6 separate regions of the Homo sapiens genome follow, and all the other regions are linked to region 1. The links come from fine-mapping of genetic effects on gene expression. A gene starts in region 1. Each other region holds a variant in brackets. All regions are shown on one strand. Distances are from middle to middle.

The links. PIP is the estimated chance that this variant, and not a neighbour inherited with it, causes the effect.
Region 2: its variant is fine-mapped to the expression of SYNM in tibial nerve (GTEx, PIP above 0.99).
Region 3: its variant is fine-mapped to the expression of SYNM in liver (GTEx, PIP 0.99).
Region 4: its variant is fine-mapped to the expression of SYNM in whole blood (INTERVAL, PIP 0.98).
Region 5: its variant is fine-mapped to the expression of SYNM in visceral fat (GTEx, PIP 0.97).
Region 6: its variant is fine-mapped to the expression of SYNM in skeletal muscle (GTEx, PIP 0.98).

What each region holds. Positions count from the first base shown.
Region 1 is chr15:99,101,961-99,106,995 of GRCh38, reverse strand. It overlaps SYNM (synemin), which reads right to left and starts at 1,916. Exons shown (of 4, transcript NM_145728.3): 1 at 987-1,916. The coding sequence starts at 1,796. It overlaps SYNM-AS1 (SYNM antisense RNA 1), which reads left to right and starts at 1,119. Exons shown (of 3, transcript NR_187219.1): 1 at 1,119-1,308. RefSeq lists silencers at 807-976, 1,257-2,166.
Region 2 is chr15:99,212,686-99,217,720 of GRCh38, reverse strand. All of the region lies in intron 8 of TTC23 (tetratricopeptide repeat domain 23), which reads left to right. Among named protein-coding and RNA genes, the nearest start is that of TTC23, 34 kb to the left of the region's middle. RefSeq lists an enhancer at 2,951-3,451. The variant G/A (reference allele first, on the strand shown) is at 2,236.
Region 3 is chr15:99,123,513-99,128,547 of GRCh38, reverse strand. SYNM (synemin) reads right to left here. Exons shown (of 4, transcript NM_145728.3): 3 at 1,756-1,826. Among named protein-coding and RNA genes, the nearest start is that of TTC23-AS1, 13 kb to the left of the region's middle. The variant G/A (reference allele first, on the strand shown) is at 2,410.
Region 4 is chr15:99,134,261-99,139,295 of GRCh38, reverse strand. SYNM (synemin) reads right to left here. Exons shown (of 4, transcript NM_145728.3): 4 at 3,703-5,035. It overlaps TTC23 (tetratricopeptide repeat domain 23), which reads left to right. Exons shown (of 14, transcript NM_001288615.3): 14 at 1,169-2,973. The coding sequence ends at 1,286. Among named protein-coding and RNA genes, the nearest start is that of TTC23-AS1, 2.5 kb to the left of the region's middle. RefSeq lists an enhancer at 2,031-2,532. The variant G/T (reference allele first, on the strand shown) is at 2,421.
Region 5 is chr15:99,178,673-99,183,707 of GRCh38, reverse strand. All of the region lies in intron 9 of TTC23 (tetratricopeptide repeat domain 23), which reads left to right. Among named protein-coding and RNA genes, the nearest start is that of TTC23-AS1, 42 kb to the right of the region's middle. The variant G/T (reference allele first, on the strand shown) is at 1,980.
Region 6 is chr15:99,190,019-99,195,053 of GRCh38, reverse strand. All of the region lies in intron 9 of TTC23 (tetratricopeptide repeat domain 23), which reads left to right. Among named protein-coding and RNA genes, the nearest start is that of TTC23-AS1, 53 kb to the right of the region's middle. The variant T/C (reference allele first, on the strand shown) is at 2,732.

The sequences.
Region 1 (5,035 bases):
ATTCCATATGACAACCCCCATGTTCCTCTCACTTCTAATTTTTAAAAGTCAGTCTCAAATCTTTAACTCACAGCTGCAAACTGTACTCTTAAAATATTTGTGAAATTGTGCAGATGTTATTTCCATCTGTCCTTTTGAGAACTACTGATAGTGTGATTTGGGAATATTTCCAATTCTGGCTGAGGCAGGGCAGGGCGAGGGCCAAACGCTAGGGCTGGACTGGGCATAGTTTACATCAGCCACAGGTGTCACCCCGCCGGTGTCAGAGGGTTTGCTTCCCTGAAATAGTAACTGTTTATATCACTCTGCACTTGTAATAACATCCTGCCAAAGGGCCCCACTTTCCCACAACTTTTACACTACGCAGAGATCTGACGTCAGCGTGTGCTGTGAGCAAAACATCTTCGATCAAGCTCTGTTCTGCATGAGGGTTGCTGCCCCTCCCAAGATCAAACAAGGCAGCCGCCCAGAGAGCCACAACTGCGGCTTCCAACTGGGAAATCATATTGGCAAAATAAAAACCGTTTTGGAAATTAATTTGAGTTTTCCCCTGAGGAGCGCTATAGACAGCGGGGCTACCATAAGCCGTCACTTCTGCAAGTGAGAGAGGTTTCTCGGTTGACTCTTAGATCTGGGTCTACTGAGTCTACGGAGCACGGAAAATGGAAGGAAAACCTAGAGCTAACAGGGTGGCCTATCAGGATGCGCCCAGTCACGCTTGTCAAGAGTTAAAGCAGCTGCCACCTAACCCCATGACGAGGACGGGGCTATCCGCTAGGACCTGCCGCCCCGCGCTCGCCCGCTGAGTCGATGGACCAGCGGACCGAGTCCGGGTCCCCATGCCATTCGGGCACCCTCTGGGCGGGCCCTACCGGTCCGCGACGCCGCGCCCCTGGTGAAGGGGCCGCTGCCCCACGCCGTCAAGGGCAGGGTGCTGGGGCGACGGCAGCGGGTATGGGGTCAGCGCGCCATCCCCGCGCACGGACCTGCCGCTCCTCGGCCTGTATCCCGTACTCCTCGCGCATCCGCAGCAGCGCGTCCTCCAGCCGCGCGCGCAGCTGCTCCAACCCGAGCGCCTCGCGCCGCAGCGCCTCTGCCTCCTGCGCGCACAGCCGCGTCTCTTCCTCCGCCTGGAGTCTGCTCTCCTGGCCGCGCCGCAGCGCCTCCTCCAGCTCGCGCACCTCGTCCTCGTACAGCTGCACCGTCTCCCGCCACGACTCGGCCACCAGCAGTGCGTAGCTGTCGTGCACCTCCCGCAGGCGTGGCGGCGGCGCGGCGGGGCCGGTGGCGCGGGCGCGGAAATGCATGGTAAGGCTGGCGGCGCGCGCGCGCAGCTCCCTCACGTCGCGTTCGTGGGCCGCGTCGAGGCCTCGGCGCTCGGCCTGCAGCCGGCCCAGCAGCGCCTCGAGGGCGGCGCGCGCGCCCAGCGCCTCCTGCAGCTCGCGCTGCTGCGCACCCAGCTCGGCGTCCAGGCGGCCGCGGGCGGCGCGCTCCTCCGCATCCAGGCGCTGCAGCTCCCGCAGCTCGCGCCGCAGAGCGTCCCGCTCGCCCTCCGCCAGCGCAGTGGCCCAGCTCAGCTCGTCCAGCTGCTGCCGCAAGCTGCGCGCCTCCTCGGCGCAGCGGGCCTGCCCCTCGGCCCACAGGCCCTCTCGCCCGCGCCGGCCGCGCAGCTCCTCCTCCAGGAGTAGGTTTTCGCGCTCCAGCTCCCGCACCCGACACACGTAGTCATAGAGCCGGGCGTTGAGCTCCTGGAGCTCGGCCTTCTCGGGGCCCGTCTGCAGCCGCCAGGACAGCATCTTGCCGGGCGTGCGGGGTTCTCGCGGCTGGCCGGCTCCCTCCTGCCCTGGTCTTGTCCCGGTCTCGTCCTCTCCGCCGCGACGCTCCGGCCTCGCCGCTGCCCCGGAGGCCCGCAGACTGGGACGCGAGCGGGAGAGCCCAGGCACTTAGCGGACGGGGCGGGCAGACTGGGCGGGCGGCCTGGGCGAGGGCCGCGGCCTCCAGCCAATCAGAGCGCGGCCCGGCGCGGCCTCTGCGGCCGCACAGCGCCCCCTGCCGCACCTTGGCGGCCGCAGGTGGTCGGTGCGGGCAGTCGGGTAACAGCGGGCGGGGTGGCGGGCTAGCCAGGCCGGGCTCAGCGAAGGGACGCCGGAGAGGGCGTCCGGGAGCATACGAGTGTCCTGGCCTTGGTGGATGGAAATAGAAGCCTATTGAGTTGCTGTGGTGCTGGCGATTTTGGAGCGACTTCTTACCCGAGGCCCTGGAGATTGGTGGCTTTTCTATTTTTAAAAAAACGATATGGGCCGGGCGCGGTGGCTCAGGCCTATAATCCCAGCATTTTGGGAAGCCGAGGTGGGAGGCTCGCTTGAGCCCAGGAGTTCGAGACCAGCCTGAGCAACATAGAGAGACCCTGTCTCTACCAAAAAAAAAAAAAAAAAAAAAATATATATATATATATATATATATGGAGCCTGGCGTGGTGGTGTCACACGCGCTGCTTGGGAGGCTGAGGCGGGAGGATTACTCGAACCCAGGAGTTCAGGGCTGCAGTGAACCTGATTGTGGCACTGCGCTCCAGCCTGGGCAACAGAGAGAGGCCTCATCTCATATATATACATTACACATACATGTGCATTAATTTTTTTTTTTTTTTTTTTGAGACAGAGTGTCGCTCTTGTTGCCCAGGCTGGAGTGCAATGGCACGATCTCGGCTCACCACAGCCTCCGCCTCCCGGGTTCAAGCGATTCTCCTGCCTCAGCCTCCCGAGTAACCGGGATTACAGGCCAGCGCCACCACGCCTGGCTAATTTTTTTTTTTTTTTTTTTTTTTTTTTTTTGTATTTTTGGTAGAGACGGGGTTTCTCCATGTTGGTCAGGCTGGTCTCGAACTCACGACCTCAGGTGATCCGCCCACCTCGGCCTCCCAAAGTCCTGGGATTACTGGCGTGAGCTACCGTGCCCAGCCTAAATAATCTTTTTAACTTAAAACATAAATATATATCCATTTACCAGTATTTTAATGTGCAAAATACTTCTCTTGATGTCAGTTGACAGGAGTCCCAGTTGCCCTTCTTATACAAGCTACCCTCATAGTACATTACATTTTCCAAAACGAATTTCTTTCATTTGGAGTGAAAACTTAGAGACCATAAAGTGCTCCAAGTACAGAACTTTCTAGACATCTAACATCTCCCCGAACTTTTACAAATCTCACACACACACCCCTAATGTGACAGCTGTTTCTTTCCAGCATTTCCCTAAGAAAGTATTCAGTTTAATTGCCATGGAAACCACAGCTCTTTTTTGTACACTTGCATTTCATTAGTTTTCATGGCAGTTATTTATGAATGACAGTTCTCAGTATAAGTGTCATTAAGGCTCACAGGGACAAACCAGCTGACCCTTGGTTGGGGTGCCCTTGAACTTGTGGCAACACAAGTGCCCAGGGCGAGACCTGGACGGTCATCCACTGGCCAGAGGGCTCCTCATGGCAGGGCCAGCAGTTAGTGTATTTTACAGATGGCATGGAAAGGTGGACTACTCAGCAAGCTGGTCCAGGGCCTCTGACAAAGCTTCTAGTGCTCTCCTTGTCACAGCCATGAGCCTCCAATCACAAGCAAGGCAGAAAGTGGCCCTTCCTTTTTCTAGAGACCCTATGTTGGAGATCCCATTCTGTAGGTGGTAGAAATTAATATCTTTCAATGAATAATTCCCTGTCCTTTTCTGCTAAAACTAAGTGGGGGTGGAAAGTGGGTTTATTCAGTGCTTGGGTTCATTCACCTTGGTGTGGGACAGGGGGATTTGGACCCCCATCACCCCATCATTGTCCATCCTCCCATTCCCCCAGGTGCACACTGACACCTGGCCTTTGCTTGTCAAACACCAGAGCTGCTGTGGTGTCATCGCCCAAACCTATGTGGAGACCCTGCCGGTCCTGGGCCCCTCTGGGACATTGGGGTGCGGGGGGGCGGCTCTCACAGTTGCCTGGACTCCGCTGCAGCTGTTTGTTCTCAGCTCTTTGACTCCCCACGCTAACGGGTTCTGCTGTCCCACATCCCCTGGCTGGGCAGGGGGCAGCCCTGCAGGGTGGGAGAGCCTTCTCAGGGACCAGTGAGTCCCAGCAGGACACTTTGCAGTGACTCATTAGTCTTTCTTTGCCCAGTGCCCTTCAGGGTCTTGGACTTTGAAACTCAAAACCCTTTCCCCCATTTCTGCTGTAAATCCTGTCCCTGAGGAATTGACTGCTCCAGCATGCAGCTGCCCCGGTAGGGAAAGAGTTATAGGGGATCAGGAACTAGCAGGGCCGGGAGGTGGGAGGGGGGAAGTACCCCCAGCTACTCTTTCAGGATAATATCCTGCTGCTTCATACTGAATCCTCACAACACTGAAGCTCGGAGGGGTGAAGTGACTAGAAGTATTAGAGTTGTGACCACAAGAGCAGACTTGAGCAGGCAGGGTCTGGCCAGGAAGCAGAGGCAAACTCAGAGGGAAGGGAATGATTGATGGGATGGGGATGGATGGGATGAGGAAGCACCAGGGACCAGCAAGAGCAAGAAGCTAAGAAGCCGTTAGCGCCTTAGGGTGTTGGCTGAGCCTGGAGAAGCCCAGAGCGCTGGAAAAGAGGAGCAGAATGGATCCCAGGAGGGAGCAAGAGGAGGAAAACCCAGTTCTTCCTTCATCCAAGCCTCCCTTCTCTTGCCAATACTTCCCGCTGTGGAAGCCAGAAGTCACAGGAGCCTGGCAGTGGTGCACTGCGGTTGGCTCCCACAGGTTTGTGAGTGCCAACTGTTAAATTTTTAGAATTTTATGAACCACTTGTTAAACACAGCCATTATTAAAAATTAATTATAGAAGCTTACAACTAATTATACAAAAAGAGCAAACACATATTCAAAACGTATCACTTCCTCAGTATTTCACTGCATTTTCCTATGATCTGCTCTTGAAGTTATGAATGAGCAGTGTGCCTGCACCATAGAAATGCCATTTAATGTGTACTACCCTACTCCATATTCACTGACATCATGTTGGTAGCTTG
Region 2 (5,035 bases), 110 kb before region 1:
CTTTTGTGATCACAATTCCCTTTGTTCTTTTGTTTTTCTTGGGTGGTTTTTGAACTGCAAGTGCAGAGCTCACTCATCTGTGCAAATCCTCTGGTATGGATTTTTAAATTAATTTTTCCCTTCATCTCCGATCTTTTCTCTCATTCTCCTACACACACATCATAGATAAATACTTTAATGATGGCTTACGTTTTTGAGTATGTATCTCTGAATAACAAACAATATTGTTTTATATATTTATGTGTTTAAAATTTGTATAAATTTGGCCGGGCACAGTGGCTCATGCCTGTAATCCCAGCACTTTGGGAGGCTGAGGCAGGTGGATCATGAGGTCAGGAGTTCAAGACCAGCCTGACAAACATGGTGAAACCCCATCTCTACTTAAAAATACAAAAATTAGCCAGGCGTGGTGGCGCATGCCTATAATCCCAGCTACTCAGGAGGCTGAGGCAGGAGAAATCGCTTGAACCCAGGAGGCAGAGGTTGCAGTGAGTAGAGACCACACCACTGCACTCCAGCCTGGGTGACAGAGTGAGACTCTGTCTCAAAAAAAAAAAGAAGAGAAAAAAAGAAAATTTGTATAAATTTGTAGCGTATGTATCATTCTGCTTCTTATTTTTTCCACTCAGCACGTTTTGGTTGTTGCCTGGATTTTAGTTCATTGCTTCTGGTTCCTGTATAATGCTCTATAGAATGCATTTGTTGTATTTTGTTTGTCCATCCTCCTAACAATAGACATTCAGCTTGTCCCCAGCTCTCTGCTGCCATAGCAGTGCTGCCATGACCATCCTTACACAGCTTCACTTACGTGGCTAAGTGACACTTTTTCTGAGGTTTATATCCCAAGGGTGGTATTGCTTTTCTGAGGTTTATATTCCAGGGGTGGTACTGAGTACAAACAGACTTTAAGTTCACCAAGCACCAGCCAACCACGACACCCATCTGCATTTGCATTCCTACTTGCAGGGTGGGTAGGTTCCTAACACACCACTGGCAATATTTGACTTTGTTAATCTTTGCCAACCTGGTGCATATAACGTGCTATCTAATTATTAAAGTTCTATTTACATTTCTCCTATTAGTGAGTTTGAATACTTTTCATATACGACTTAGCCACTTGGGATTCACCTTGTATGAATAGCCTGTTAGTATTCCTTCTTATTTTTCTTTTAGAGTTTCCTGTACCTTTCCTATTGATAATCAGGGTTTTCTTATATATTATAAATATTAATGATATAAATATTTTCTTACATCTATTGCCCGCTTATTAATTTTGTCTATGGTGTTCTTCGTGGCTTAGAAATTATTAATTTGGTTCACTCAAATCCATTCATTTTCACCTTATGATTTATGCTTTGGGAGTCTGGTTAGAAAGTCTTTTCCAGCTAAATATCAAAAATATTCTCTAAAATTTCCCTCCAAGACCTACTTTAACTCTACTCCATATATTTTATCATGAAGCATTATCACTGTGATAACTTCTTAGTATTTCATAACTCAGTTTATAAATTACTCTTTAGTCCAAGGATTATTCAAATGATGTGTGTTTTGGTTTGCAGGTATGAGAGTTTTCAAGATATCTTGGTGTTACTGATTTGTAATTGTATTGCATTGTTATATATATCCTGAAGCTATTTTGTTGGGGTGAGAGGAGAGTTTAGCAGCCTCATATCTTCTTAACCTATCACTTTATTGGTTAGTTGACCTTGTCCTTTTTTGTCCCCTACATCTATTCTGTCTGATACTATATCCTAGCTCTCTTTTGGTAAATATTTTCCTACAATACCTTTTAAAAAATATTTATTTGGGTTTAAATTTCCTTTTCTCCTGCCAACTTTTTGTTCTTTTCTTTTTCCTTACTTGCTTTCTTTTAGATTAATCAAATATTTCTATCATTCCATTTTATACCCATTAATTTGCAAGTTATACATTTTTTTCTTTTGTTTTTTATTTTCTTTCTTCTTTTCTTTTTTGTATACAGGATCTCACTCTGTTGCCCAGACTGGAGTACAGTGGTGGGGTCATGGTTCACAGCAGCTTCAACCTCCCTGGGCTCAAGCAATCCTCTCATCTCAGCCTCCTGAGTAGCTTGGACTACAGGTGTGTGCCACCACACCCAGCTAACTTTTTGTATTTTTTGTAGAGATGAAATTTCGCTATGTTGCCCAGCCTGGTCTTGAACTCCTGGGCTCAAGCAGTCCACCCACCTTGGCCTCCCAAAATGCTGGGATTACA[G/A]GCATGAGCCACCATGCCTGGCCTTGTTATCTTCTTTTTATTCTAGTAGTTACTGTGGAGTTTGTCACTTATATCCCTGATTTATTAGAATCTAATTGTAAATTAATCATTTAACCACTTCCTGAACAATGCAAGGACCTTTGAGCGTGCCAGCACTCTTTATCCTCTCTGCTTGGTGCTGTGTTGTCCTGTATTTAAATCACATGTATCTTATACTACAGACAATATTTGTAATACGTACAACTGACAAAGGGCTTATATCTGAAGTCTACAAAGAACCCTTATATATCAGTTAAACAAACACATAACTGGATAGAAAGATGGGCAGGAGGTCAGGCACGGTGGCTCATGCCTGTAATCCCAGCACTTTGGGAGGCCGAGGCGGGTGGATCACCCAAGGTCAGAAGTTCAAGACCAGCCTAGCTAACATGGCGAGACCCTGTCTCTACTAAAAATACAAAAATTAGCTGGGCCTGATGGTGGGCACCTGTAATCCCAGCTACTCGGGAGGCTGAGGCAGGAGAATTGCTTGAACCCGAGAGGCAGAGGTTGCTGTGAGCCAAGATCGCGCCATTGCACTCCAGCCTGGGCAACAAGAGAGAAACTCCATCTCAAAAAAAAAAAAAAAAAAAAGGAGAAAAGAAAGATGGGCAGGAAACTTTTCCCAAAAAAAGAACACCCGCATAGCAAATAAACCTATCAAAAGGTGTTCCACCTTATCAGTTATCAGAAAATGAAAACTAGAATCATAAGATATGGCTGGGTGTGGTGGCTCACACCTGTAATCCCAGCGCTTTGAGAGGCTGAGGTGGAAGAATAGCTTGAGCCCTGGAGCTCAAGACCAGCCTAGGCAAGATGGGGAGACCCCCATCTCTACAAAAATATTTTTTAATTTATCCAAGTGTGGTGGTGCTCACCTATAGTCCTAGCTACTCAGGAGACTGAGGTGGGAGGATCTCTTTTTTTTTTTTTTTTTTTGAGATGCAGTCTCACTCTGTCACCCAGGCTGGAGTGCAATGGCGCGATCTCGGCTCACTGCAAGTTCTACCTTCCCGGGTTCACGCCATTCTCCTGCCTCAGCTCCCGAGTAGTGGGGACTACAGGCACCCACCACCACGCCTGGCTAATTTTTTGTATTTTTTAGTAGAGACGGTGTTTCACCGTGTTAGCCAGGATGGTCTCGATCTCTTGACCTTGTGATGTGCCCACCTCGGCCTCCCAAAGTGCTGGGATTACAGGCGTGAGCCACCGCACCCGGCCGGGAGGATCTCTTGAGCCCAGGAATTTGAGTTTGCAGTGAGCTGTGCAACACCACTGCACTCCAGCCTGGATGACAAAGCAAAACTCTGTCTCTTTAAATAAATAAATAAATAAGATACTCTTACATTCCCACTAGAATGGCTAAAAAAATTTTAAGACTACTAATAGCAAACATTTGGAAGGATGTGATTCTCTGATATGCTCTCTCATATACCATTGTTTCAAATATATTTGGTGTAACTACTTTAGAAAACTATTTGGCATTGTCTCCTAAATTTAAACATTTGCATACCTTTTGACCCAGCAGTATCACTACTAAATTATACACCCAATAGAAATGCATGCATGTTTTCACCAAAAGACATAGCCAAGAATATTCAAAGCTACATTATTTGTAATAGCCAAGAGTTGGAAACAGCCTAAATGTTCACCAAAAGTAAAACAGAAAAAATGTGATGTTAATATAAATAAAATGATTAAAACTACTCCTATGCTTAACAGCATGAATGGCTCTCACAATGTGTAGTGAAAGAAGCCAGATGCAAAAGAATCATACTGTACAATTCCATTTATATAACTGGAGGAGGAAGAAGGTTGTTAGTGACTGGGAAGGCTTTACCAGTCCAGAATCCCTTCCTGCCAGAAATTAGGTATTCTGTCTTATAAGATAGGAAATACACAATTCAGAGCTCCAAGATATAATATTTGTTGCATCTGTTGAGACCTAATATATCAGTATTTAACATTGAGCAGTGTTGCTATAAAAAAGAGTAAATGATCCTCTGGCACCTCCTCTGAGTGCTTTCCAAATTAGCAACACCAAGCCTTGCCAGCAGATGGCGGGCCCTGTACACATCTAGGCTGAATAGCCAACAAGAATTTAAGTTAATATTCCAGACTATTCTACAAAGTTACTTTTGTGTTTAGCCAAGTTGTTTCAAACTTTGCTACTTCTTTTCATCCTAATTCTTCACCCTGATATAATCACCACAATGTGCATGTTTAAACTGTATAATTTTCATTCAATTACTTTGCTTCATTTCCTTATTGAAATGTATTTTGTCCAAATTTATCTGCTTTAGAAATTAACAAGGTGTTTTGGATTTATGCACTTCTGTAGGTAAGCTTGAACCATGAGGGCCTTTTCTTTTGCCAGGTCTTGGAAGTGGAAGGCCAAGATAATTTCTCAGGCAGCGCTCATTGGATTTATGTCCCCCCCTTTTTTTTTTTTTTTTTTTTTTGAGATAGGGTCTTACTCTGTTGCTCTGGCTGGAGTACAGTTTCACAGTGACAGCTCACGGCAGCCTTGACCTCCTGGGCTCAAGCAGTCCTCCCCTCTCAGCCTCTTGACTAGCTGGGACTACAGGCACGTGCCACTGCACCCAGCTAATTTTATTTTTTTGTAGAGACAGGGTCTTACTACTATATTGCCCAGGCTGGGCTCAAGCGATCCTCCTGTCTCGGCCTCCCAAAGTGTTAGAATTACAGGCATGAACCACTGCACTCAGTCCTATGTCCCTCTTAAAAGGATATCTTTTAG
Region 3 (5,035 bases), 22 kb before region 1:
GGACAGGGCTTTCTCTCTCCCTTATGGAGCCAAGGCCAGAGGCCTCCTTTGCACAGATCCCAAGATACAGGAAAGAGACCAGGCCAGGACATTTTCTACAAGACTCCTCTTTTCAGGTCAACTGATCCTACTGATCCAACTGAGAAGTCCCAGAAGATGAACCCCCAGGCAATAGTGCAGGGACCATCTCATTTACAGTTAAGATTCAACAAGAAACATGGAAGATTACAGACTGGGTTTAGGTCCACCGGCTAGCGGGCAAGCGGCCAACATTATTTTATGCAATATTATAAAAGAAACACAAGCACACTAACAAGTATTGATAAGTTCACTACTTAGGAACTTATCTGTATATTTACTCAACAGAACAGAACTATCTAGAAGCTCAACGTCTAATAAAAATTCCCAACTAGTAATTTTTATTCTAAAGCTTTTGGCATAATATGTAATTGCCAGAATAAATTTAGTTTACAAATATTAAGTCTCTATTTCCTTCAAGAAGCTTGAAAAATAATGAATGAATGAATGAATGAATGAATGAATGAAGCAAGTTAACAGCAACAGCTGTTAGCCCCTCTGTGTGCTCTCCCTCGGCCCCAAAATCACAACTGGGAAAATTTGAGCAAGGCCCTGGCTTAGACTGTTGGTCTTCCTCGGAGCTCCTGGGCCCTTTTCTTCCTTCTCCCCTCTCTCTAGGTTACATGATGGATGTCCAAACTTAGGTATCCACAGGTTAAAAATGTAGGTAACTAAGTAAACCTTGAAATCTGGGGAGTTAATTCTTGTTTTATAGATGTCACACGTTAACTGATGCCAGGCAGGTTGACCAATGCCTACCCTTCCATGAACACCTTTGCTTTTTTCAAACTTACTCTCAAAATTAGAAAGAAAATTTGCTGCATGTTGTCTAAGACCAGATCCCTTCCAGTTATAGATGACTAGAACCCAAATATTCTTCTCAACCCAGTGACATGTCAAATCCATGAGTTGCCTAAAAGAAACAATGAAGACTAAAACCATGCTGCTGCCTAAGGTGTGAACTCAACATTCTATACGTAATTTAATCGACACTTGCTTAGCCAGAGCTCTTCAAGATTCTATAGGGCTTTAAAAGGTTAAAAAACAAGTTATCCCTCAGTTTCTTAGGATCTTTCTAATGAACATTAATGATCTTATGTCAGTTCTGCAGCCATAGGAAGGATGGGCCCTGTCCTGAGGCTCTTGGCCTCAATAAGGTAGTCTTCAAGGCACCAGGACACATTTTCCTGAGCTGCTCACAACAACCTAGGGTGGTGTAAACAATGTAACTATTCCCATCTCTCTTCCTGTTAGGGTAGCAGGTTCCAGAGTGCTGCCTGCCTGCCATCCAAGGCCATACCTCCCTCTACAGGTGTAACAACCATAACCCCTTGGTCTGGAAATGGAAGGAGTGTCCCTTCCAGGGGTGTGAAACACAAGTTCAGGTGCACTCCTGCTCGCCCTCACACTGCCCAGTGCCATTAGCCCCTTCCGCTCCTGCATCCTGTCGAGAGAGGGACCAAGTTTATCAAGCACCTTCCCAAACATTCTCATTCACATAATTGAAATTATGTCACACTAAACTAAAATCTATTTGGTACTTAAATGAGAGATGAACTCCTGTTATCTAAACACCATATCTAACCCGTTCTTCCCGATGATGGTGCTTTACTATCTAGCCACAGAATAAACAGTTCAGATGCCTAAAGCTAAGTCAAGTCATTAGCTTTTACTTACCTGACGGCATGTTTTCAACGTGCTCAGCCCAGATCACTATCTCTGGATTACTTTCTCCTTCCAATAAGGCCCTGTAAAAATAATTTACAAACATAATTCATTAGGAAACGAAAGAGTAAGAAGTGCCTCTAATAAAACGTATCGTGGTATGCGGCCAATGACCATAGTGTCACCTGTTTTAGGACTTCTACCTGAAGAGGAGACTTGGGCAGGGCTGCACCATAGGGCTGGCAAGCCCACCCACCAGCCTCAGCAGACCTGGGCCAGGCCACCTGCTCTGCTCACCGCCACATCCCTGGCAGCCAGCATGGCGCTCAACCCCTACTAGCCCAGTGAACAAAATGACCAGGCCAGGGCTTCGGCAGTACTGGCGAGCCAAGCCCTTCTAGAAAGCTTTCTCAGTCCAGGGTGAAGAGGAGCAGGAGCAAGGGGGCACTGGAGAGATGTGGGCCCCAGGCTAGAGGGCCCCAGAGCAGCTACACCCCCCACTGGGTTCTTCCTGGAGTCACAGCTGGTGGGGGCAGCTTGCAGAGGGCTGACCAGGAGACGGCAGGGACTGACACTTATAAGGCAGCCAGACTGCATCTGTGGTTTCAAACTGCATTCCAGGGGGTCACCTTGGAGACGACAAAAAGAAGTAGAAGGCAGGCAGAC[G/A]GAAAAGGTAGTGCTAAAGCGCCCCCCGTCAGTAGCCCCTCCCCATGCCACCCCCAGGGGCCTCACTTCATCCAAATTGGCATCCTGTTATCTCCTTTAATAAAATGGTGAGAAGTACCCAACAAGGTGATTTCTTTGACTATGTCTGCGCCAAAGTTCTAAAATTATAGAAGTTTCATTAGGTTGTTCACGTCTACTGCTTCAGATCCCAGAGCTGAGGAGAGTGGTCCCAGCAGACCCAGCCTGCTGGCGAGGGGCTTAGCACCGGGATGCCTGTCAGCCAGTCACTCGCGAAGACCCCTTGGGCTGCTGGCAGCTCTGGGTGCAACAGTTTCTCAGTTGCTAGAGCAACATGTGAAGTCACTAACTCCGGTTCCAAGAAATACACTGCACACGGCAAAAGGCATCCAGAACAAGAGCCCACTGAGAAATGCCAATCTTATGGCTGAGAGCTGGGCACAAAAACGGAGCAGGGTGCCCACACCCGAGCAGGGACTTGGCAGCTTGGACAAACTGCACTGAGTTGTATTTCCATCTGTTGAAACATGGTGAGCCCCATGAACACGAGAGCCCTGTGAGCAGCTGGAAGAAAGCAAAGGAGGCATGAGGCACTCTCGCGAAGGCGCACACAGCGGGCCTGCCCCGGCGCAGTGACTGCGGGATGCTTGTGTGTGGACGGGGCATGTGCAGAGGCCCGAGTCCAGAGCCCCAGCCCTTCGCTCAGGGCAGAGGCCAGGAAACAGGACACCAACCCATTAATCCCACGCCCTCATGACCAAGCATTGTAGGTTCCAGGAACGCAAACAGCTTTCACTGCTGAGAAAGTTCTGAGGTCTATATAATCAGAGGAACATTCGGGGTAAAAGCCAGGCCCCAAGGCTCTGCACCCCAGGATGACGGCAGCAGAAGGGGTGGCGTCCTGCAGCTGAGGAGCCAGGGCAGGGCGTGGGGAGAAAGACTAGGTTCTAGTTCAGATCCTCCCGGCCTGGCTCAGCTGTGAACCTCGGGTACCACGGGGCCTCTCCCTTGAGCTGCCCAAGTTAGAACGGAAGGTATGTTGCTGTCCAGGGAAAAATACGTCTTCCCCACCCTCCAAAGGGAATGCATCTGCTCCTCTTCCAGAATTCCAAAGCATCACCAAACCTTCATAGAGTTCAGGACCCACACGAAACAGGCACCAGCCCTGCGTGGGGCTTCTGGCTGGGTTCAGGGGACAAGATACAGCCCCACAGCTTCCCCTTTCTAGGCCTTTACCATCCCTGGCTGACACTGAGCACCAGGCATTGTGGTCACTCATGTACTTACACCGTCGAAGCCACCCCCAACACAGGGCCTGTGGCTGCATCCTCGCTCTAGAGGTGAGAAGACTGGGGTGCAGAGACAGCGTCTTGGTCAAGGGCATACGGCTCACCAGTAAAGAGAAAAATGCAAACCCAGGCAGCCTGAGCTCTCAGCCCCCTCCCCTGCGATACCACTAGGCCTCCCAGTGAGGCCAGAGACCATGGTATTGCACACAAATTTCAGAAAGCACAAATCCTACAGATAGACCCTCCGGGCCATATTAATGAAAATAAATTCTCTTGGTGATTTCATCCAAAATGGCCCTGCAGAGCTCTCCTATAAGTAAGAAGCTCCTGCTGGAGAAGGAGCTATCCCTCATCTGTGTCCCTTCTCAATGGCCGGATCCTAGCAGGCAGCGACACATGTCACCTTTACTATCTGTGAGCACCCGGCTGGGCACTGGCCATTGAGTTCATGCTTTGGGTAGCACATCCAGCCCAATGGCAGCCACCCTCCTTCCGCACAGCCCCAGGACTACACGGCGAAAGCATCAACAAGACTCTGAGGAGAAGCCAGAAACCACGACTTCCTCTAAAGCTCTGCAAGGGACATTTTTAAGGAATAGGTTCGTACCACTTTAAGAAATGGGTAGCATGTTCTCTGAGGCTGCAATCAAACCTGGTTATTTTGAGAGCGGTGGAGGAAATCTGCCCCCAAGCCTCGGGGACTGTGAGAAATGCCAATCCCCTGAGTCATGGGCTATTGTGGGCATTTCACACAGCTCCACAGGTTGGTGGCCCCTTATGCAGGAAAATAAGCAAAAGTGCAAGAAAACTCAAGTCCCTGGCCTCATTAAGGAGCCCAGGACAAACCCACAGTGCAGAAGCCGGCTGTCATGTGGCCTCTGGCCAGGCGCCAGGCCCTAATGGGCCACCCGGCGTCCTGAGCAGGCTCCAAGGCAAGGCTCTCTGTCTGGGATAGATTATCCTAATGGAATTGCTGAACAATCCGCCGTGACTCAGCACCGTGGGCACAAGGCCACTGCTCTGTGCAGCCCCATAAATGAGGCACTGTCAGGATGTTCCCAGAAGCCGTGTCTGTGCGGGAGCCTGCTGGGGCCGGGGCCGGGGCCTGTGGGTGATTCACGGGGTGCTTCCTAGCAAACAGCAGGTGGAGAAGTGCAGAGAAGAAAGGGAGGCTCCGGAGCTGGAGAAGGAGCCGCAGAGCCGCCTCCCTCGACTCCTCACTGCGACAGAGGAAGCCAAGCTCCACACAGAGTGGACGCACTGCCTGGGTCACCCCAGATGCGGGCCCGTGGCTGGTCAGTCACCGGGAAGACCAGGGA
Region 4 (5,035 bases), 32 kb before region 1:
TTTCTCTATCTCATTCCCTTTCCATTCAGAATCTCAAGAGAAAGCTGGTTCTAGAAGGTTCTGTGTAACCTTCTCTGGAATGTTTTGCTGACTTCCCATAACTTGCATAAAGGACAAGTTCCTTTGAAACCCGAGTTGTAAAAGATCTTCCTTGCCCAGGTATTTAAAAATAATTCATCCTTTAAGTCAGAAATATATGCTGGATGTTGTCTTCCTGCAGACCAGCCCCTGCAGGCTAAGGCACCTGCTGCAGGGGGAGGGCCCCGGGAATCCCTGTGGCCTCCTGCAGCCCTGCTTCCGGCTTCCCTCTGCCCTCGGATGCCCGTCAGGACTGGAGCCGGAAGGTTCACTGACTGACCTTAAAGGCTGGCCCCTACGTCCTTTCTCAGCCCGAGCAGAGGCCCAGCGCTCTGCCGTGGAGGGCCTACCTCACAGAGCCTGGTCCGCAGAGAGCAGCCCCAGGGCTGCCTGAGTCTGCTCAGGGAAACAGGGCCACAGCCCGGAGCAGACACAACCTGGCCAGCAGGGCGCCATCCCCTTTGAGGGCAGGGAAGGCGAGCCAGGGAGGCCTCCAGTGCAACCCTGACCATCCTCCTCACCCATGTCCTGCTCACCAAGCCAGCTAAGGGTTGAGGGCCTCAGCTCAGTGAGGATGGTCACAGGTGATTTTAAAAGATGGGAGGGGCCAGGCGAGGTGACTCATGCCTATAATCCCAGCACCTTGGGAGGCCGAGGCGGTGGATCACTTGAGGCCAGGAGTTTGAGACCAGACTGGCCAACATGGCAAAACTTCGTCTCTACTAAAAATACAAAAATTAGCTGGGCGTGGTGGCATGTGCCTGTAATCCTGGCTACTCGGGAGACTGAGGCATGAGAGTTGCTTGAACCTGGGAGGCGGAAGTTGCAGGGAGCCGAGATGGGGCCACTGCACTCCAGCCTGGGTGACAGAGTGAGACTCTGTCTGAAAAAAAAAAAATTAAAAAAATAAAAGATGGGAGGAAAACATCTCATGTTTTATGCTCTGTGCTACAATTCTCCTCTCATTTATAGCCCCTACCAAGTCTTCTCATAAATGGGTCTGGGCACCTGCTGGGCAGCAAAGGCTGGATGGGAACGGTGTGGGGGGCTGAGGGGCACCACACTCACCCCACCCTCTGCTTGTCTGCAGGGCCCCCAAGGTTGCTTCGAAGCCAAGGCAGGCATCAAAAGCCAAAGTGGCCTTCTGCACCAGCATCCCTCAGGACACCCTGCTGGGGAAGGCCCGGCCCGGCACAACAGCAGACTGAGGCCCCCACCCTGAAAAAGCCTAGGACATTCCTGGGCACTGTCATTTAGGGTGCTGTACAAATCACCTCCGCCTAGAAAATGGAATTCAACAGTCAGGATACAGATTTCCAAGGCCAACTGTTGGCCCCAACATGCAACAGTGAGACCATAAGCCTCCCGTGGGCCACATTTTGACAGTGGATGCCCTTCAGGGTGATATATGCTATAAAGCAGTTTTCTATCACCTAAGTGGTTTTTCTTGCCAACAAGAATTTTTACCCATCAGCACTACTGTGGCTGAAAAACTTCTCTTCAACAGTTCAGTGCGCCCTGTGCAGGAGTCAGCCCGGCATCTGCTTGTACACACAGCTCCTTGCATAGGTGTGGAGTTAGATCTGGACAGTGAACTTCAGGAAGTCCTTTCTTATAGGAGGCTAATAGGGATTGAGAATAACATGAGAAGAAAACGCTAATAAAGGGAAACCTGAACACGCTGCTGTCAGCATGTGTTTTCAAAGTGCAGCCTGCCTCAGAGTTCTTCGGAGCCTGAAAAGGGGTTTGAGAAAGAGCCCAGTAGGAGGGGCAGGAGGCCGACACACCTGACTTGGCCTGGGGCCCAGGAGGCAGGTGTAAGGGAGTGAAAAGAAAGGCTAGCCGGAGGCTGCGGGGGGAAGACCGCAGACTCCCTGCTGCTTCGCATCCCTCCTGTGGCCTCCACTGCAGGCAGGACAAACCTGGATGCCACCTGGAGCTGCTTCCTGAGTTGGCACACTATCGTGTACACAGCAGTCTTCAGCCCCCTGGAAGGAGGCCATAGTCGTGTGAGGATGGCAAAGTCGAACAGGAAGCTTTGAGTGCCTTCCTCCACGATGTCAACGAGGAGATCCAGTGCCAGATCGAGGTGGATGGAACACCCAGGGGTAGGGGTGCAGGTGTGGGCAGTGATGTCCCTTCCCCTCCCTCCCCTGGTCCCACAGACTGTGGCCATGAGGCTGCAGGCTGGTGCTATGACAGCAGATTGCAGCACAGGGCCCTCCCCTCCAGCCCCCAGTGGGACATCAAAACCACCCTGGGGCCATTTGTGCAGGGCACCACCTCCAGTATTGATGGGGAAAATAAACTCAGTAGAGCCACGACAGGGTGGAGAGAAGCAG[G/T]GACCATTGTCTTCCTCAGGAGCGTGACAGCTGACCCCACAGACCATGCTTGCTGGTACACACTGGTCCCAGACCCAGGCCTGTCGGACATCAGCAGTGTGCTAAAAACGTGTAAGATGTCACTACTCACCGTGTGTCCTATCTAGTTGACATGGGTGGAGTCAGCTAAGGGGTGAATGTTCATATGCTCCCAATTCACGTTGAAGCCCTAATCCCCAAAGGGATGGTATTGGGGGTGGGGTCTTGGAGAGGTGATTAGGTTATGAGGGTGGAGCCCTGATGAATGGGATTAGTGCTTTATAAGGAGAGACACCAGAGAGATGATCTCTCTCTCCACCATGTGAGGACACAGTGAGAAGACAGCCGTCTGCAGGCCCGGAAGAGAGCCCTCACCAGGAAATGAAACTGTTGGCACCTTGAGACTTCCCAGCTTCCAGAACTGTAAGAAATAAATGTTTGTTGTTTAAGCCTTTCAGGCTACGGCTTTCTGTTACAGCAGCCTGAACTGAGAGTCCATGCCGAGTTTTTGAAATAAATGTGAATTCTGATGTTACTTCTTCCTTTCTGTACTTCTTGAAGCGTAGCTTGGAATCACAAAAACTAAAACACATTTTTAAAATTTAGCGCCCCCACCCCACCCCACCCCAGGAAGCAATGAATTTAGGAATGTTCCCTCCAATGTCTCCCATCTGTTAATTCTGTTGACTTCAACGAGAGGAAGACTATAGCTACTTGTGTTTTTCTATTTTTGGTAAAGGGCTACAAGGTTACAAACGGGTAAAGATATCTAGCTATTCCTTTGTCTCAAACTACCTCAGTTTTTTCAAGCCCCTAAGAAATGGCCATGCCTTAGGGTTAACCCTCCAATTTGCACTTATAAGGTAACCAACTGTCCTGGTATGCCCAGGACAGTCCTGGTTTTAGCACTCAAAGTACCACATCCCAAGAAACCTCTCCATCCCAAATGGGATGGTTGGTGGTGTCCTACTGCCACTAGTCATTCAGGCTGTGATGATGACATTTTTACCACAAATTGTCCAGTGTATATTTGATTACAAGCCAATTGGCTTATGCTCTGTCTGCCAGGCTTTCTAGCTCTGTGCTCCCAATATTGAGTTCCGATTCAGGTGAGGAATTAGAGAACTGGAACTTTTCATATATATTCTGCCCAGTAATTCTCTGCTACCCTAAAAACATGCATGTAAACACACAGATTCTTTACTTAGAGTTTAAAGGAAACATCAAAATCTACTGAAAATATTCATTCTCTTTAGGAACAATGTGGGTTTTTTCCTCAGATTTTTATTTTTGCACATTCTTGTGACATTTCCCATTGTAGGGAACAGGAGTTTAGCAAAATCAGCTTCTTAGATGATGTCATTCTAAATATACATCTTAAACAAACAATATCAAAACCACCAGTAGGAAACTGAAAAACACTCAGTGAGTACTGTTTTGTCTCAGTAACAATAAATACAAAAAGACTGGTTGTGTTCCGGCCCCATCCAACCACGAAGTTGATTTCTCTTGTGTGCAGAGTGACTGATTTTAAAGGACATGGAGCTTGTCACAATGTCACAATGTCACAGTGTGAAGGGCACACTCACTCCCGCGTGATTCACATTTAGCAACCAACAATAGCTCATGAGTCCATACTTGTAAATACTTTTGGCAGAATACTTCTTGAAACTTGCAGATGATAATTAAGATCCAAGATATTTCCCAAAGTAAATAGAAGTGGGTCATAATATTAATTACCTGTTCACATCAGCTTCCATTTACAAGTCATGAGCCCAGACACTGACATCAAACTGAGCCCACTTAGACTCCTCACCACCAGTCTGTCCTGTCATCAGACAGGAGGCTGTCACCTTGACCAAATTCTCACCAGTCAATCATCTATCCAAAAACCATTACCTGTTACAGCTAAAACAAAATCAGCACATCTCTGTCTGTATTAGAAACGACAAAACCTTACAAAGCAGTCACCTCCATACCAGTCTGACAATCACTAGTTCATTTGGCAGATGGACAACAAAGGTTTAAACTTGCTATTCCAATCAACTTTCTTTCCCTATCTGATTCATGGTGTTTTTAAAATAGTATCTTGAAAGCTGTGCTGCATTTCTCCTCCACTTATCAATGAAGAAAACGTGCTCTCCAGAAACTACCTGCGGTAGCCACTCCCAGGACCTGGGGAGACGTGCACCCTGGGGGTCTGAGGGCCTCCAGGTGAATCTGAGAGGGAAGACCCTCCAGTGCTGTCGTTGTAGCCTGGCTGAGGGTGGTGCTAGCTCAGACTGTTATTCCCCAGTGCGCCACAGTCAGTGCGATGATGCTGTGTTACTGGAAATACAGCTGAGACAGCATTATGTGAAAGAAGCTAGCCTGAACTAAAAAAAATGCGCTGCTAGCGAAACTCTTTTTATATATGATGCTACACTTTACAGACAGAAACTTTAAAACAATACTGACGTGTAAAATAAAATGAATCCAATGAAGCATGCTCATCCCAGTATCTTAAACTCGGTGGTGCCTATCTACAGGTCCACACTCCGCGGCCCATGAGCATGGGGGCCTTTCTCGCCCCCCAGGCCCGTCCTGGGTATCTCGGT
Region 5 (5,035 bases), 77 kb before region 1:
ACAAATTTTCCAAACTTTTATGCTCTGTCACTTCTTGAATGCTCGGCTGCTTAGAAATTTCTTCCACCAGGCCAGGAGCGATGGCTCATGCTTGTAATCCCAGCACTTTGGGAGGCCGAGGCAGGTGGATCACAAGGTCAGGAGATTGAGACCATCTGGCTAACGCAGTGAAACCCGTTATCTACTAAAAAAAAAAAAAAAAAAAAAAAATACAAAAAATCAGCTGGGCGTGGTGGCACGTGCCTGTAGTCCCAGCTACTCGGGAGGCTGAGGCAGGAGAATCGCTTGAACCCAGGAGGCGGAGGTTGCAGTGAGTCGAGATCGCACCACTGCACTCCAGCCTGGGTGACAGAGCGAGACTCTGTCTCAAAAAAAAAAAAAAGAAAAGAAAGAAATTTCTTCCACCAGATGCCCTAAATCTTCTCTCTCAAGTTCAGAGTTCCACAGATCTAGGGTAGGGCCAAAAAGCCACCAGTCTCTTTGCTAAAGCATAGCAAGAATGACCTTTACTCCAGTTCCCAGCAAATTCCTCATCTCCATCTGAGACCACCTCAGCGTGGACTTCATTGTCCTTATCACTATCAGCATTTTGGCCAAAGCCATTCCACAAGTCTTTAGGAAGTTCCAAACTTGCCCACATCTTCCTGTCTTCTGAGTTCTCCAAACTTTTCCAACCTCTGCCCATTACCCAGTTCCAAAGTCACTTCCACATTCTCTGGTATCTTATAGCAATGCCCCATTCTGCTGGTACCAATTTACTGCATTAGTCCATTTTCATACTATTTCACTTTTTGTTTCATATTGTTTCACTATAAAAATTTTCTAAGAATGACATCAATCCAAGTGCCACAAAGGGGAAGATTACTGGTTTTTTTTTTTAAGTAATAACTACTTTTTTTAAAAAATGATACATGTTCTTTGTTTTTTAAAAATCAAGCTATATAGGAAAGGTCAAATATATGCCACCAGTCACCTCAGACCTCCTTGCCCAGAAATAGCCAGTGTTGACACTTGCTGAACAATTTTTCTCTGCATATATACAGATGAGTATACATTAGGAGACAGAAGAGAAAAAAAAGAGAAAGGAAGAAAGTGATAAATTTGACAGAGTAAAAATGAAAAACTACTCTGTGATAATATATCATAAAGTCAAAACATAAATGTCAAAGAGGAGAAAATATAGAAAGAGTTCTTTAAAAATCTGGATAAAAAAGACAACTCAGTAGAAACATGCACAAGACAGGAACATACAATTTACAGAAGAGGAAACATAAATAACCAATAACCATACAAAAATAATCCTCAGCCTCACTCGTAATTAAAGAAATGCAATTTAGCTGTCTGGCCATTGTGGCTGGAGCCCAGTATGGGTCATAGGAGATGAAGCTAAGAGCGGCACGTGGCTGGGTTATGATTATGTGTGTGTGTGTGTGTGTGTGTGTGTGTGTGTGTGTGTGTGAGAGAGAGAGAGAGAGAGAGAGAGATTTCTGGAACAATACAGGAAACTGATTAGCTGTAAGCCTGGGAATGGGGAGAAAAAGAGGTTAAGGCAGGTAGAAGGGGGAAGGAGTATTTTTAATTTCAATTGTTTATTCTTTTCCACCACTTAAGATTTTTTAAGATTCTATGCAGGTAATACTCTTATCATTTAAAAATCTAATTAAGTTTTAAGAAAACACATACTTGCAACCAAACGAAGAAAATATAAGCCCTTGAGGTATCTATTTTGTTGCTAATGCTTATACAGAGTAGTGCTTTTTCTCCCCAGCTCTTTGGAGGAGCTAAAATTGACAACTGGAGAGCTGCCACTGAGGACTTTCTCTGACTATTAAAAGAAACTGGCTTAGTCCAGGGCCCTCAGAACTCAGTTTTCCAATGCTCTCTGCTCCCAGTGACTTCCTGTTCATCTAATCCCCCAGGGATTCCCAGCTCCGTCTTTTTCTTAGCCAAGGTTCACCAGCTGCCCCAGGCCTCCAAGG[G/T]GTGTGTGGCCATGAAAGCCTTCCCTGCTGGGCAGAGATGGGAGAGGGAAGGAAATGGCAACCCGGGGCTGCAACGTGACCCTGTCTTACGTAAGGGTGTTAGCTCAGATTTGAAGGGTGAAATGACCAGTTTTGGCAGGGTGAAAAGGCAAGCTATGCAGCTTCACAGCTGGTCAGTTATAAAAGAAACAGCAAGCTCACACCTCCAATGACAAGTGGACTTGAACTTCTTTTGAATTAAGGCACAAACTTGAAACAAAGCAGAGTCGTAGACTCTCGGTCGACGACACCATAACATCTTCTCTATCCACCATCTGCCGCTTTTCTCTCCTTTATGGCATCCCTCTAAAGTGTTTAGAAGCTAGCTGCTCAGGCATCCACATGTTAGCATCTCACTCTTCCCTCTAGGCAGCCCAGTCCATTTCTGGACAGAGTCTACTCTTTGACAGCCTCTTTCTCTGACCCTTAAATATCTCTTCATTACATTGATTAGAAAATCATCTTTCTGTAACTTCTACCCTCTCAATAACCAAGTGTTAGACTGGAAAAGTATGCAGTTTGGAATGACAGGCCTTAGTCTGAGTCTCTGTTCTGCTGCTGACGCACCATGTGACCTTCAACCTCATCTCCTGGAGGCTTAATTTCCCCTTCTGTAAATTGGGCTGTTCACATCACTTTCAATGGTCATTTTGAGACTGAGTGAACTGGTAAGTGGTAAAATTCATTTAGTACCACACCTGGCAGAAGAAGGTGCTTAATCGATGTTAGTTCCCTCCTTCCCTGTGTCCCTCCAGTGCTCACCCTCAGCTGTACAAAGAGATCCTGGCTGTGACTAAGTTGAAGACTTCTATTGTCTCCTCGCTGAGTGTTCTCATCTCCAGAGTAAATACATTCAGGCTAAGTCCACAAATGTACCTTGATCTTCTTGTGTACTTAATCTCTACTTTGCTGTAGGAGAGATTTTGCTCTGTCACTGAACCCCAAATTATTACAAAGTGGGGGGAAAATATATTTCCCTAACCCCCAAGACCCACCCCATCCCCAAGAGCTGGGATTCCACACTCAGACTCCTTCCAGGGTTTGAAGTTGAGTGTTCAGATGATGGGGTCTGCCTGCAGAAATAGAAGTGTCTCTCATCCTTTTCACTAGTCATCAGGCTTTCTCTTTAGGAAATATTACACATTTTACCAATCCAAGGGGACAGGCCCAGTTAGATAAAAGCCTGCCAGCTCTGGCTGTGTCTGTCGACAGCTTGATTGGCACTGAGGAATCTGTGGTTTCCCCCAGACATACATACAAGGCACCAGGATGGAACAGCTGCTCTGTGCCTTGGCAGGGGTTGAGGTCCTTGGTCTTGTGGATGAGTTTTGTTTTTTTTTTTTTTAATTAATGACCTTGTTCAATGTGGAATATTAGAAGTTTTTTTTTGTTTTTAACCCAGTCCAACATGCCAGCACCCCAAGGGATTTGGAGATATTAAACATTCCTCCTCAGCTTCAAGATGACAGTTGATAAATGTAACCATAAGATACTGAAAAGAACAAAAGACATGAGGGGAAATGCAAGCCCTGGGGAGATTAATAAATCCTGAGGAGAAGGAGTGAGTGTGGTCAAACTATGGAGCCCCAGCGAGGCCCATTACTTGATCTCTTGCAGAAATCCAGGAGAGGCAAGCAGGATGCCTGTAATTCTGTTAACTGTGATTCCTAGTCCTTAAATGCTCTCAGATGCATGTAACAGGGTATTTATATTCCCTCAGCAAATGAAGCATTGTTTGAAAATTGTGAACAATGGTTGAGTTTGGAAAGACAGTGTAGTCTAAACACTAGCATTGTCAACGTCCTTTGCACTCACTCCCTAAGGAAGCCTCACTGCCCAGCATGTGCTGTGGTTCTCAATCTGTGTCACCCTGAGCCCTCATGTTCCATGGAGGTTCTTCTGGGGCAGCTAGCTGGGAGCAGGTAGTCAGACTTCCAGGCCCCTCCACCTGCTTCTGTGAGAGCGGCTGTTCTGCTCTTTCCTGCTGTGTATATTGAGAACCACAGAAGGTTTTGTTTGGGTTCTTCTGCTCCAGAAAAGAAACTTGAAAATCAATGGTGCCATGGTGTTTGCATCCTTTTACAAGTTGCTTCGTTCACTCAGTGGTATGTTTTTGAAATACAACCATGTTAACATATGTAGATGGAGTTCAATCAAGAACTTGTAGAATAAACCACAATATGTTCATTCCCCTGCTGATAGATATTTAGGTGGTTCCCCATTTTTTACCATCTCAATTAATGCATCAGTGGAGGGCATTTTCAACACAGGCAATGGGCGGTGCCCATTAAGCTGGACAAGAAGGGAAGGACAGCAGGAGGGTTGGATGACTAGTGAGAATGTCAGGGGGCGGTGGAGTAGATGTGCATGGAGGCAATAGATCTAGGGCCCCCCAAGAGCCAAAATGGGTCTGTGAGTTGGAGGATCCAGTGGTAACACAGAGTGGGCGATGATGAGGTCTGGAGTGTGACCCAGGGACTGGGCACCTGAGAGTAAGGAGGAAAGTAAGTTTGTCAGAAACCTGAGAGGCCAAGGTGTTGGCTAGGTCGTTGGCTGGACATTTCCGTGTGGTCCTTCAGCTACACTGTGCATCCTTCTCAGCCCTGCTCTGTGCCCCAGAGGCTGACCTTTAATTACCATCTCAGTGCCCTTTCCCTCAGACTGAGAGATACACAGCCTGGACCAGGGAAGACATGGAGACAGAGCATCCATTCCTCCAGCCCCTCCCCTCAAGGTCCCTGCAGGTAGGCCGTGTCTCTACTGAAACCCACCGCTCATTTCCCTACAATTCTTCTTTCTGGTTATAGCAAATGCCCCCAGCACCTTGTCTTGGGAGCCAGCGTGCTCATCTTGGGTTTCCTCCATGCCAGGGATCATTTTATTGACCTCTTTTCCTCCATTAACCTGTTTACATGTGCCATCTCTTTCCTGCCTGATTGAGTACAGGCCAATCTCATGCATACTGAAATCTTGGGAAATGATGACAAGAGTAAGGGTAGATAGGAAGTCAGTTAGCT
Region 6 (5,035 bases), 88 kb before region 1:
GTGCCTTTGGTGATATATCTAAAAAGTCATCACCAAGTCCAAGGTCATCTAGATTTTCTCCTGTGTCATGTTCTAGGAGTTTTATAGTTTTGCAGTGTTGTTTTGTTTTGTTTTGGTTTTGAGATGGAGTTTTGCTCTTGTTGCCCAGGCCAGAGTGCAATGGTACAATCTCGTCTCACCAACCTCTGCCTCCCAGATTCAAGCAATTGTCCTGCCTTAGCCTCCCTAGTAGCTGGGATTACAGGCATGTGCCACCATGCCCGGCTCATTTTGTATTTTTAGTAGAGACGGGGTTTCTCCATGTTGGTCAGGCTGGTCTTGACCTCCCGACCTCAGGTGATCTGCCTACCTGTGCCTCCCAAAGTGCTGGGATTATAGGTGTGAGCCACTGCGCTCAGCTAGTTTTTATTTTACATTTAGGTCTATAACACATTTTTAGTCAATTTTTGTGAAGGGTATAAGGTCTGTGTCTGAAATCTTTTTTTTTTTTTTTTTTTTTTTGCACGTGATGTCCAATTTTTCCAGCACGGTTTGTTGAAAAAACTGTCTTTTCTTCATTGTATTGCCTTTGCTCCTTTGCCAAAGATCAGTGGACTGTATTTATGTGGGCCTATTTCTGGGCTCTCTATTCTGTTCCATGATCTCTTTGTCTCTTCTTTTGCCACTGCCACACTGTCTTAATTACTGTAGCTTTATTGTAAGTCTTCAAGTTGGGTAGTATCAGTCCTCCAATTTTGTTCTTTTCCTTCCATATTTCATTGGCTATTCTGGATCTTTTGCCTCTCCATACAAACTTTAGAATCAGTTTGTCAATATCCACAAAATAACTTCCTGAGATTTTTATTAGGATTACATTGAATCTGGATATCAAGTTGGGAAGAATTCACATCTTGACAACATTGAGTCTTCCTATCCAATTTCTAAAAGTTGTTCTCTAAATTTTTCATGACTAAATCCAGATCTATCCTCAACGTCTCAGCTATGAGTTCCTAAAGTTCAAAACTTTAGTAAAAGTTTCAAACATTAAAACTTTTTTTTTTTTTTGAGATAGAGTCTTGCTCTTGCCACCCAGGCTGGAGTGCAGTGGCACAATCTCAGCTCACTGCAACCTCCACCTCCCAGGTTCAAGTAATTCTCCTGCATCAGCCTCCCGAGTAGCTGGGATTACAGGCACCCACAACCACATCCAACTAATTTTTGTATCTTTGAGTAGAGATGGGGTTTCACTATGTTAGCCAGGCTGGTCTTGAACTCTTGACCTCAAGTGATATGACTGCCTTAGCCTCCCAAAGTTCTGGGATTATAGGTGTGAGCCACCGTGCCCAGTACAAACTTTAAAACTTTCAAAAGTTCAAAAAAAAAGGTCTCGCTACCAGTTTCTTAAGTTCATGGAAAGACATCAGTGATTGTATTAGTCCATTGTCACGCTGCTGATAAAGACATACCCAAGACTGGGCAACTTACAAAAGAAAGAGGTTTAATTGGACTGACAGTTCCATATGGCTGGGGAAGTCTCACAATCATGGCAGAAGGCAAGGAGGAGCAAGTCATGTCATATGTGGATGGCAGCAGGCAAACAGATTGGTCAGGGAAACTCCCCCTTATGATCCTGTTAGATCTCATGAGACTTACTCACTATCACAAGAACAGCATGGGAAAGACCTACCCCCATGATTCAGTTATCTCCCACCAGATCCCTCCCACAACATGTGGGAATTATGGGAACTACAAGATGAGATTTGGGTGGGGTCACAGAGCCAAACCATATCATTCTGCCCCCGGCCTCTCCAAAATCTAATATCTTCACATTTCAAAACCAATCATGCCTTCCCAACAGTCCTCCAAAGTCTCACCTCATTTCAGCATTAACTCAGAAGTCCACGGTCCAAAGTCTTATCAGAGACAAGGCAAGTCCTGTCTGCCTATGAGCCTGTAAAGTCAAAAAGCAAGTGGTTTCTAGATACAAAGTGGGTACAGGTATTAGGTAAGTGCAGCCATTCCAAATGGGAGAAATTGGCCAAAACAAAGGGGCTACAAACCCTATGCAAGTCTGAAATCCAACAGGGCAGTCAAATCTTAAGGCTCCAAAATGATCTCCTGTGACTCCATGTCTCACATCCAGGTCATGCTGATGCAAGAAGTAGGTTCCCATAGTCTTGGGCAGCTCCGCCCCTGTGGCTTTGCAGGGTACAGCCTCCCTCCCAGCTGCCTTCACACATTGACGATGAGTGTCTGCAGCTTTTCCAGGCACACGGTGCAAACTGTCAATGGATCTACTATTCTGGGGTCTGGAGGACGGTGGCCCTCTTCTCACAGCTCCACTAGGCAGTGTCCCAGTAGGGACCCTGTGTGGTGGCTCCCACCCCACATTTCCCTTCTGTACTGCCCTAGCAGAAGTTCTTCATGAGGACCCCACCCCTACAGTAAACTTCTGCTTGGGCATCCAGGCATTTCCATACATCTTGTGAAATCTAGGCAGAGGTTCCCAAACTTCAATTCATGATTTCTGTGCATTCACAGGCTCAACACCATGAGGAAGCTGCCAAGTCTTCAGGCTTGCACCCTCTGAAGCCACAGCCCAAGCTCTATGATGGCCCCTTTCAGCCAAGGCTGGAGCAGCTGGGACACAGGGCATCAAGTTCCTAGGCTGCACACAGCATGGGGACCCTGGGCCCAGCCCGTGAAACCACTTTTTCCTCCTAAGCCTCCAGGCCTGTGATGGGAGGGACTG[T/C]GCAAAGGTCTCTGACATGCCCTGGAGACATTTTCCCCATTGTCTTGGTGATGAAAATTCACTCCTCATTACCTGCAGCTGGCTTGAATTTCTCCTCAGAAAATGGGATTTTCTTTTCTATTGCATTGTCAGGCTGCAAATTTTCCAAACATTTTTGCTGTCTTTGCCTTTTGAAACTGAATGCCTTTAATAGCACCCAAGTCACATCTTGAATGCTTTGCTGCTTAGAAATTTCTTCCACCAGATACCCTAAATCATCTCTCTCAAGTTCAAAGTTCCACAAATCTCTAGGACAGGGGCAAAATGCTGCCAGTCTCTTTGCTAAAACGTAACAAGAATCACCTTTGCTCCAATTCCCAACAAGTTCCTCATCTCCATCTGAGACCACCTCAGCCTGGACTGTATTGTCCATATCACTATCAGGCTTTTGGTCAAAGCCATTCAACAAGTATCTAGGAAGTTCCAAACTTTCCCACATTTTCCTGTCTTCTGAGCCCTCCAAACTGTTCCAACCTCTGCCTGTTACCCAGTTCCAAAGTCACTTCCACATTTTTGGGTATCTTTTCAGCAGCACCCCTCTCTGCTGTTTTGCTGTATTAGTCTGTTTTCATGCTGCTGATGAAGACATACCTGAGACTGGGCAATTTACAGAAGAAAGAGTTTTAATTGGACTGACAGTTCCACGTGGCTGGGGAAGCCTCACAATCATGGTAGAAGGCAAGGAGGAGCAAGTCATGTCTTACATGGATGGCAGCAGGCAAAAAGAGAGATTGGGCAGGGAAACTCCTCCTTATGATACCATCAAGTCTTGTGAGACTTATTCACTATTACGAGAACAGCAGGGAAAGACACAGAGCCAAACCATGTAAGTGATAATATGCACATAGTCATCTAGCAAGGACCATTTCTCCTGACAAAATTCACTGAACTGAAAGATGGCCTCCAAGAGCCAACACCAACAGTATGCATTCAAAGATCTGAGTTTGGTTTAGAGAAGCATTCCCCACACTGTGTTCCACAGAGTACTAGCATATCATGAGAGTTCATAGGTCTTCCTAGAAAAAAGTGTTTGTGGTTAAATAAAATTGAAAGGTATTAAGTTGAAATCAAACGCATTTACTTATGGCTTTATAGTGCATTAAATATGCCAATTTGGATTATGAATCAAGAGTAGATCTAATGAGTCTGTGAGATACTAGTGTCCCCAGGTCCCAGTTGAGCTTAGAGAAAGAAATGTAGACTAGGCACGGTAGCTCATGCCTGTAATCTCAGCACTTTGGAAGGCCAAGGCAGGCAGATCGCTTGAGCTCAGAAGTTCAAGACCAGCCTGGGCAACATGGCAAAACCTTGTCTCTACAAAAAAAAATACAAAAATTAGCCACACGTGATGATGCACACCTGTAGTCTCAGCTACTCGGGTGGCTGAGGTGGGAGGATTGCTTGTGCCTGGGAGGCCGAGGCTAGAGTGAGCCAAGATAGCATCACTGCACTCCAACCTGGACGCCACTGCACTTCACCCTGTCTCAAAAAAAAATAAAAAGACATATAAATGTCTAAAAGTAGGAATCAGCAAAGGAATTCAAATATGCATGCAGCATGTAGGTCTTGTCACTCTCAGGAGTCCTTAGCACTTTGGGAATGGGAAGTGAGTTATGTAGTGCCTTTCATTTGTGGCACCCTGATTCACCACCATTGTAACGTATTTTGCCACATTGGTTTTCTCTATCTATATAGACATACATACAAACATACACACATATATATACAGCCACATATACTCAGAGATAATTGTTTATATTTTTTAATCATTTGAAGATATGTTCAATATATCATGTCTTTTTATCCCTGAATACTTCAGTGTATGTTTTATAAGAACAAGGAAATTAGCTAGGCATGGTGATGCACGCCTGTAATTCCAGCTACTTGGGAGGCTGAGGCAGGAGAATCGCTTGAACCCAGGAGGTGGAGGTTGCAGTGAGCCAAGATCACATCACTGCACTCCAGCCTGGGTGACAGAGCAAGACTCCATCTAAAAAAAAAAACAAAAACAAACAAAAAAAAAAAACAAGGATATTTTCTTATGTAACCACAATACAGCTATCAAAGCCAGGAATTTTCTTTCTTTCTTTCTTTCTTTCTTTTTTTAGACAGGTCTTGCTTTGTCACCCAGGCTGGAGTGTAGCGGCGCAAACACAGCTCACTGCAGCCTCGCCCTCCCAGGTCAAGCAATCCTCCTGCTTCAGCCCTTTAAGTAACTGGGACTATAGGCGTGCACTGCCACACCCAGCTAATTTTTGTATATTT